2 separate regions of the Homo sapiens genome follow, and region 2 is linked to region 1. The links come from fine-mapping of genetic effects on gene expression. A gene starts in region 1. The other region holds a variant in brackets. All regions are shown on one strand. Distances are from middle to middle.

Evidence for each region. PIP is the estimated chance that this variant, and not a neighbour inherited with it, causes the effect. A credible set is the group of variants that fine-mapping cannot tell apart.
Region 2: its variant is the best candidate, but not a certain one, in a credible set for the expression of NIN in whole blood (INTERVAL, PIP 0.84).

Annotation. Positions count from the first base shown.
Region 1 is chr14:50,828,989-50,833,258 of GRCh38, reverse strand. It overlaps NIN (ninein), which reads left to right and starts at 2,097. Exons shown (of 31, transcript NM_020921.4): 1 at 2,097-2,253; 2 at 2,742-2,795. RefSeq lists silencers at 1,756-2,205, 2,256-2,535, 2,606-2,655, 2,676-2,795 and an enhancer at 3,366-3,415.
Region 2 is chr14:50,793,721-50,797,990 of GRCh38, reverse strand. The region is part of intron 4 of NIN (ninein); the gene reads left to right. Among named protein-coding and RNA genes, the nearest start is that of NIN, 35 kb to the left of the region's middle. The variant G/A (reference allele first, on the strand shown) is at 2,147.

The sequences.
Region 1 (4,270 bases):
CCATGACTCCAGTTTGGACTAAGACTAACCATGTGCTCAGTGCAAACCAAACTGCAGGCCCATTGTGTTAAATAAATCATCTTTCTTGGTAGAGTTGCTCTTGCCAACCCACACCACGCGGTAACCATGCTCCATGCTTTCCCTCCTTTGTAGCAAGGCTGGAGGTGATCCCAGTTCCCAGTCCCAGGGCTAACTCCACCCCACTTACTCCTCTCAAGAAAGCGCATCTTGTGTTTTTCAAATTACACAACCCCCAGCAATTCTGATCTTCCTGCACAGGGAGTGAATGCCACTTCCAATATCCCCTGACCCCCAGGAATCACTGTTTTAAACTAATGATCAATATCATCCTTAAGGATTCTTGCAGGTTAAAAAGCGATGCTTGGAGAGGTAACCAGTAGGATGAGGCTTCCATGGCAGAGATTAGGTGAAACAAGAAAGACACCTCTTCATTCTTACCTTCCAAGACTGTTGGCTGTTTTAGTGCCCAGTGAGCATTATTGTCTGTCTTACAAGATGACCTCTATGTAAGTATTCTGGTAACAGGTTAGCTATCCTCTTAATGAACTGCGTGTGTGTGTGTGTGTGTTGTATCATATTACTGGATGACTGAACAACCATGCATACAGTGTATGAGTGTGTGTTTGTGTGTGTATGTGTACTTATTCAAGACTGTTTAAAAAGGAGAGAGGAGCATAAATCTCTCTTATTCTGCAGGCACGCTTATATACCGTGTTGAAAGAAGAGAGCCTGGGCTTTTGAATAAGACTGAGATGTTTAAAATTTTTAAAAAAATTTTTTGAGGTAACTGTAAATTCGCTTGAAGTTGTAAGGAATAATAGAGAGATTCCCTATAGACGCTTCACTTAATTTTTCTCAATGGTAACATTTTGCATAACTGTAGAACAATATTACAATCAGTAAATGGACATTAGTGTAGTCCAAATGTCTTATTCAAATTTCATGAGTTTCACGTGCTCTCATTTGTGAGTGTATATTCAGTTCTATGCAATTTTGCCACATATGTGATCTGCTTTTGAATCTCAGTTCTGTGGAGTTCCTGCTGTGTGATCCTGAGGAAGCTCTTTGACTTCTGGGAGATCCATTTTCCTCATCTGCAAAATAATGTCTGCCTCCTAAGAGTGATGTGAGAATTAGATAAGATAATTTCTGTCGAGTTTCTAGCGCACTGGATTCTCAAGGAATGCTGGTTTCCTCTTGTCTGTTGCTTGCTTTCTCGGTAGAAAAGGAATCACCAGTTTCCTGCTAAAATAACCAGACTTGTGGGTTGTAATCCATCAGGCGGATCCTTCAAGGGCAACACATTTAACCCTGCAGCTCAAAAAGAACCATGGCCTGGACTTGGGATCCTATTTGACTGCAATGAGATCAGAAGTGTAGGGATGGGGGAGTGAGAACGCAGACTCTGGGGTAGTAGGTAGGAGGCGATTAATATCGAGCAACTGTTGGGCTGGGAACCACCAACTCCAAGGAGTTTTCGTCCTGTGTGGCTTGCGACCGAGGGTTAGCTTCACCCGGAGAAGGCTGCACAGGGGCGGGAGCCTGTGAGGACGTGGTGGGCAGGTGCGGAAGCCAGTGTAGACCCGGCAGGAGGGTCGCGCTCGCTCTACAGGGTTCCGAGTCACTTCTACAGCCCTTCTGCCTCCTGAACACCCTTTCCAATGTTGATGGCCAATCGACACCCGAGGGCTGGGAAATCACCCCCTTAAAGTCCCGCTTGCTGAAGGCGGGGGCCCTTCCTCTGCGCGAAGACGCTGCGGCCCGAGTGTCCGCGGTGCGGGTGAGTGTAGGCGTGTTGGGAAAGAAAGGGAGGCGGACAGGCAAGGGGCGAGGGTGGCAGCGCCAGCCCCAGCTCGGTGGCGACCTCGGGGCGCCAGCCTCCTACACCCGCACCCGGAGCCCCGGCGTTTCTAACTTCAGATCTCGGAGGCGGGCGCTCGGAGCGGGAGGGCGCGTCTGCGAGGGCTCAGGCGGCGCCGCCCGCTCCTCCCTCCGCTGCCTGAGCCGCGCGGGCCGCAGAGGAGGAGCCGCGCCGGGGCCGGCGTCGCCCTGACTCCTCCTCCCCGCGCGGGCCCGGCCCTTCCTCCCCGGCGTCCAGAGCTCCGGGTGGCCGCGGCCGAGCCGGGAGCCGAGCGCGCTGGGCGCGGCCGTCCCGCTGCCGCCGCCAAGCCCGGAGTGCGCCAGCGGCCATGGTTCCCGCGGCGGCGCCGGGCGCCTGAGCCCCGGGACGCAGTAAGTGGCGCAACCCCGGGGACCCGGACCCACGGCCTGGGGGTGCACGGAGGCCTCGCGCTGCCCCCGCGCCGTCGGCGAGGCCCTGAGAGCCCGGAGCGAACTGGGCACCGGATCACTCGGGGGCTTCCCATTTGGGGTCCGGGGCCAGCGGGGCGCAATCCCTGCGGGCCGGGAGGAAGCAGCGGCCGGGCGGGAGGACGAGGCGGGGACGGGGCTGCTTCGGAGGCGGGAGGAGGGGCCGGTCCCGGAGGCGCGGGCTGCGCGGGCGGGGGCGGGCCGGCGGGGGCGGGGAGGATGCGCGCTGCAGCCCGCGGCCCCCGAGAGCCGCGCTTTTGTAAGAGCTGGCCCCTTACATATGGAAATGACGCTCACGCGGGTCCCCATTCGCGTCCTTTTGAAGGACGCCCGCCCGGAACCGCTGCGCCGGCTGCGAAGTATTGTCCCGTTTCTCCAGCCCTAACAAAGCGTCCTCCTTCGCTTTGCAGAGCGCTGGAGGCGGGCTGCCGGCTGTGCGGGCGCTCCGGAGAGACCGACAGAAGGTAGGCGAGGGCGGCGGGGCCGGGGGAGCGCGCTGCCTGCCCACACAATGGGCTGTCTGAGGTTTCTGGTAGTGGCGATGGGCAGGCGAGTTGAGGACGCATCGCAGGTGGCCAGGGACTTGGGAGGCGCGCTTGTCCTGCGGCCGCACCTCCGCTTCCCCGCGCGGCAGCACCGCTGGGTTTGGGCACTTCCAGTACCCCCGACGCCCCGGCCGCCTGCCCGGAGCTGAAAGCCGCTTCTGTGCTTTGACCGAGAGCAGGCTTGAGTCCCCGAGGGAGCAGAAGGGGTGGTGGTTCCGTTGGCATGTGCCGCCCGTACAGCCTTGTGATTGAGACGCTGCAGAGGAAACTGCATGGGGAAATCCGAGGTGTTAGCCTGGGCTGTCTGAGTAGCGGAGAGCTGCTTGGAGCCCGGAAAGTGGAGATTTTTGGAGGTGTGCGGGGTCGATGCGCGTAAACAGTTTCCCAGTATAATGCCCAGGAGAAGGGGAAAGAACAAAATGACATTTGGTTATTGCCTAAAAGGTGTGGCATGGAGGTATGGAGTGTCGGGGAAGGAAGCTTCCAGCGGCTAGGCTTCTGTAGCTACCGAAGCGGCCCCTGACAGAAGGACACTAGGTGATGGGAACAGTCACTGCTTCCAGCTCTCGCTGCGAAGTTAAAAGAGATAGAGACGGAAAGAGGCAATTTCCCTAACCCCAGCCCTGACAACCCGAGGTGAAGGCACCAACAAAATGGGAGCTGGAAAGACTGCCCTACCATATATCATGTTTCCAGACAACTTGGATATTATGAGATCTGCTTTCTGCTCCTAACTAGGACAGATCCTCTCCTGGTGTTGAGGACTTCTAAGATGGGCTTGCCATACAGCTCAACTCCTGAATTTATTACATCGAAACAGATTGCGTAGTTGTCTTTTGTGACTGACATGGTAGCTTTGTAGGATGAGAATCCTGATAAAGTCCATCCTGACACATGAGGGAAGCCCCTGGAACCACGACGTTTCTCAGTTAGGTCCCCGTAAACACCATAACATACACACATGTTTGCATGATTCCGGAGGCTTGATGATCTAACAAGGAAAATTCCTTTTTTCTGTCAGTTTAATTTTACCTTGAGTCTTCTCTCGTGGTGAGCATATTATATAGGTGGCTGACCTGGAATATTGGTGGCTCTTGCTCCGGAGTTGAAGGGAGCTGAGGATTTCCAGAGTGTGTATAGGAGGAACATTACAGGCTGGCTGAAAAACGAGTTTGTGTGTTGTGGTCTCTTCAGCTATTGTCAGTGTCCTTTGGGAGGTGATGTGAACTGCCCGGGAATTTGTTTGCAGATTTGTTTATTTTCCCTGTTCTCTGGTGATTCTTTAGAGGGAAGCATTCTGCAGAGTGGGGAAAAGGTAGGATGAATGTTCCACAGGGTTGGACATCGGCAAAGTTATTACCAATACAGGGAAAGGCTTCACAGGGGGCAATAGA
Region 2 (4,270 bases), 35 kb after region 1:
CCCTCCCAACTCCCTTCTTTCCTCCACCCCAGCTCATCTCTCCCCTCCTCCTCCTCAGTCTCCCACTCCACTCTTTCCCTTCCTGGTGGTCTTCCCACATCTATATCTCTTGCTCCCCTTCCCCACCCCTCCATAGGCCTCTAGGTCCCTATTATCTCCTGTTTCCCCACCCACTTCTTTCCCTCTCTTGGTCTCAGTCTCTGTCTCATTCTCTCTCCATATCTGTCTCTCTGTGTCAGTTTCCACTGGTCTCTGTCTGTATTTTTCTTGGTCTTAGTGTTCCTTTGGATTTTCTTCCCTTCTCTTATTTAGAATCAGGCGTGGGTTTGCATTTTCACTGTGTAATCCCTGTGTGATGGTGCATTCAGCATAGGCGAGGAGGTGGGATGTAGAATGGGGCAGGGTGGGGCTCATTTGCTGCATGACTGCCTTTTCCCAAGAAAGCTTCTTGGGGATGCTGGCCTTGAGGTTTGCACATGCTTCATTTTTTACCTTTCCTTTTCAAACGGATTTCAGCATTCCTGTGAGCTCAGCAGCAATGTAACATGAAGGGCCTCCTGTGCTGAGGTTCTTTGGATGGGGGTGGTGTCTCTGGGAATGATTTCCCAGGCTCACTAAATGAGTCAGGAAGGGACATAGAAAGCAAAGTCCTATGCGAGCAATTCCAAAATGAGAATACCAGCACCCTAACGACAGGGTTTTCTTCTTCATCCTTGGAAATGGCCTCAGGTCATTTTTGGGAACAGGGAATTTTTTGATTCAAAAAACAAGTTAAAATATCCATCTTCTTCCTCAATAGGTACAACGTAATGTTTTGCCTATGGCAGGTGTTTGGTAAATACGCTTATGTGTTAAATGAATCTGCCTAACACTGGGGAGCATCTTTGAAAAATCTCCTTTAACTTCCAGGAAGCAGCTATGGCTGCCACTCCATTCCAGGTCCTGAGCTTATGTTTTTGCAAAGAAAGCATTCAATTGAATATATAGTGTTCAGGCTTTTGCATAATGATTTTAGCTTCCCTTAGGTCCTCATTGCTTTGGCTTTGGCTGTTCATGCAGTGGTTTTAGGAGAGCTGAGCATTTTAAGCAGTGACCTGTATCACATCTGATGCAGATGTGGTGATCTGGTGCAGTGGTCAGTTTTAGGGGAGAGCTTTAAAAAGTGTACTCTGTATTGCTTGAAACCTGGAGTAGGGGAGGCTGTGTTTCTCCCCTCCACACTGCTGCTGGGAAAGGAACTGGGAGAGGAATGAGGCGGGTGTTTGTTATTTCCCCTGGCTGCAGCTGGCTTATCTACTCTGAGTGGTCATTCTCCCTGACACCATATTTTAACTTTCTTTTTATTATGAGTGCAAGACCTCTGGTCAAGCATCATACATGTGCATGGTGGTTTATCCTGATTTGGAAGGGGAACATTATCGAAGCTCTGGAGTTTCTCTTCTTGGGACAGATGAGATGTGAAATAACAAATGTGGCGTGTGAGCAACCCAGCTGTCATTTCTAAGGCCCGAAGGCATAGTATTTTCTTCATCTTTTTAACTCTCGAATCAGATGTTTTCCCCACGTGCTCTGTAGAGACTGTCACTCACTTCCACATTACTCCAGTGGAGGGTTGAAGCAAGGTTTCTCTACTGTCCCCTGCTCATAACCAAGCATTTGGCTTATGGAATAAAACCTAGATCATTAAACTAGGTCAGGTTGGACTGCCTCAAAGCCACCTTCCTCTGATTGGTGTGTCTCATAATAAGCTTTCCAGGGATGGGGTCTGAGACACCTCCAGGCAAGCTGGGCTTGTCTGCTTTCCTTTGAAGCCCACTTTAATTTTTGTAGTGATGCCAAATAGGAGAAATGGAAAATGGGAAAGAAGGAAAAATGACTCAGAAGCTTAACAATCCAGGGAGAATCATAAATACACTTTCAAGGAACTCAAACACTGAAACACTGAAAGCATGGCAGTCATTTATACTTTGTTTTGATAGCATTTCTTTTTGTTTTGTTTCGTTTCTGTTTTTGAGATGGAGTCTTGCCCTGTTGCCCAGGCTGGAGTGCAGTGGCGCAGTCTCGGCTCACTGCAGCCTCTGCCTCCTAGGTTCAACCGATTCTCCTGCCTCAGCCTCCCAAGTTTCTGGGACTACAGTCACGAGCC[G/A]CCACGCCTGGCTAATTTTTGTATTTAATAGAGTCCAGGTTTCGCCATATTGGCCAGGCATTTCATGTCCCTTCTTGGAGCTGGTGATTGGAGCAGATACTCTCACCTGTGGAAGCTCTGTGATGTCAATAATTTCGTTTCTTAATAAACCAAAAGCCTCCATGTTATCTGACATAGATAAGATTATTCCAGAATGACACCCTGAAAAATAAAGGTTCCATCTGGATGTGCTCAGAAAGTAAATAAACGTAGCCCCAGGGTTGCAGTTTTGGATCTCTTCCATTAGGCATGGTCAGAAAGGGTCAAGGCATTCTTTAACTTGAGTGGGTAAGAGTGTCTTATAATCCCCATGGTTCGGTGGACATCTGCTGTTCAGTTCTAAATCTCTGATTGAGATTGATGAGGAGAATCATAGTGTTTTCAGCGCTTAACCTAGCAAGGGCTGTTGACCGTGAATGTTCTCTCTGAACATCGTTAGCTTTGCTGTCTCTGTTCCCATCGTATCATGTTAAGTGCAATGAGGCGGATGCTCTAAATGGGAGAGGGATGTCTGAGTGTGTCATTCTTAGAGGTGACTATTTTTAAATGGTGTGATTAGTCCACTTCGTTATTGGTCACTTGCATGGTTTGGAAAATAAAGTGATGAGAAAACTTTAACCCATTTTTCTTTGTGTGTGCTAATGTCTTTATTCCAAAAAGGTTACATAGTTTAATAGATGTCTCTAGAAATTGACTTTATCATGTTCGTACGTTCTATGAAGGATATTAACTTAAAGTTTGCTTAAATTGGTTATTATAATAAGATAATGAAATAAACAATTTAATGCCTGGCAATGCAAAAATAAATGAGTAAATAAACCAAAACTCCACAGGGTCCCTGCTGGCTCACAATCTGTTACCTTTTATTGCTTAGAAAAAGAGCTGTTTTGAATCCACCACTGCATCTACCCTATGCACTACGTGGGGTAGTGAGTAGTAAACAACCAGGGAACCATTTCATCCACCGGTAGGTTTGGGATTAGATCACAATGGATTTTTAAAAGATAGTTGTTTTCTCCCACTGCTTTTTTTTTTTTTTTTTTTAACCTCTGAATAAGTGCAGCATGCAATAAGAGCTCCTTCGCCACTTCCATCCCCAGGACACAACTTTGTTCTTATACTGGGAAAATACTGTGGTTCATTATCCAAGGTTCTAAGTGTTCCTTTTAATCTTTTCCAAACCCCTATAGTCACTAATGGTGTATCTTGTTGTCTGCCACCAAAATTTAAGAATATGTAATAAATTAAGGATGGTTCTGCATTGCCTCTTATCTGACTAGCATCTGTGGGTGTCAGCTGCCAACAAGTAGCTCGGGTGTCTGGGCCGCTCCTGAATGGTCACAAGCTGACACACTGTCTTCTGATAAAAGGTACCTTCAAATATGCATGCAATTTTCAGTATAAATTTTGTATGCTTAAACACTTCCTGTAAGAGAATCACTCGACCTAATAAAATGACTTCACTGGGACTTTTTTAAAGCTGGATATAAATATCACTAGAAATTATATAGCTACCATAAATACTTCACTCTGAGCTTTGCTGAGCATGTTCAGAATGTGTCTGGCCACATTTGTGAAGATAGTGAAATCCGAGCTTGTCCCAGAGGGAAGGACATGGCGGGGAGGTGTTTAGTCAAAGAGGGTCGCCAGTCCTCCCTGGGAAACTGTAAAGTAATGGCTAAACCCCAGCATGGTTTCAATGGTGATAAAGGAACGGTCGTTCTTTTAGTTCTTATCTAATCAACTATTGTCGTTTTTATAATACGTGTACATAATCTCATTTAAAAGTCTACATGTCTGAGTTCAGACATACCTTGCTAAGACTCATGTTCAAACAGAATACATATCTGTTCTCGAGAGAGTATGAATATGTGGACAGCAAGACAACAGAAATCAAAGCATTGTCATCTTTTGTACTTTAATGAAACATTTTATTCTGATGCTGTACAAGGTGCTAAAAAATCTATAGCTGAGATAACATTTGAATAGAGTGAAGTATTTATTTTATTGCTTTAAAGCTCCAATTGTAGAAAAAGCTTAGCCTGTAGTTGTGGCGGTGGAGGTGGTGGTGGTGGTGGTGATGGC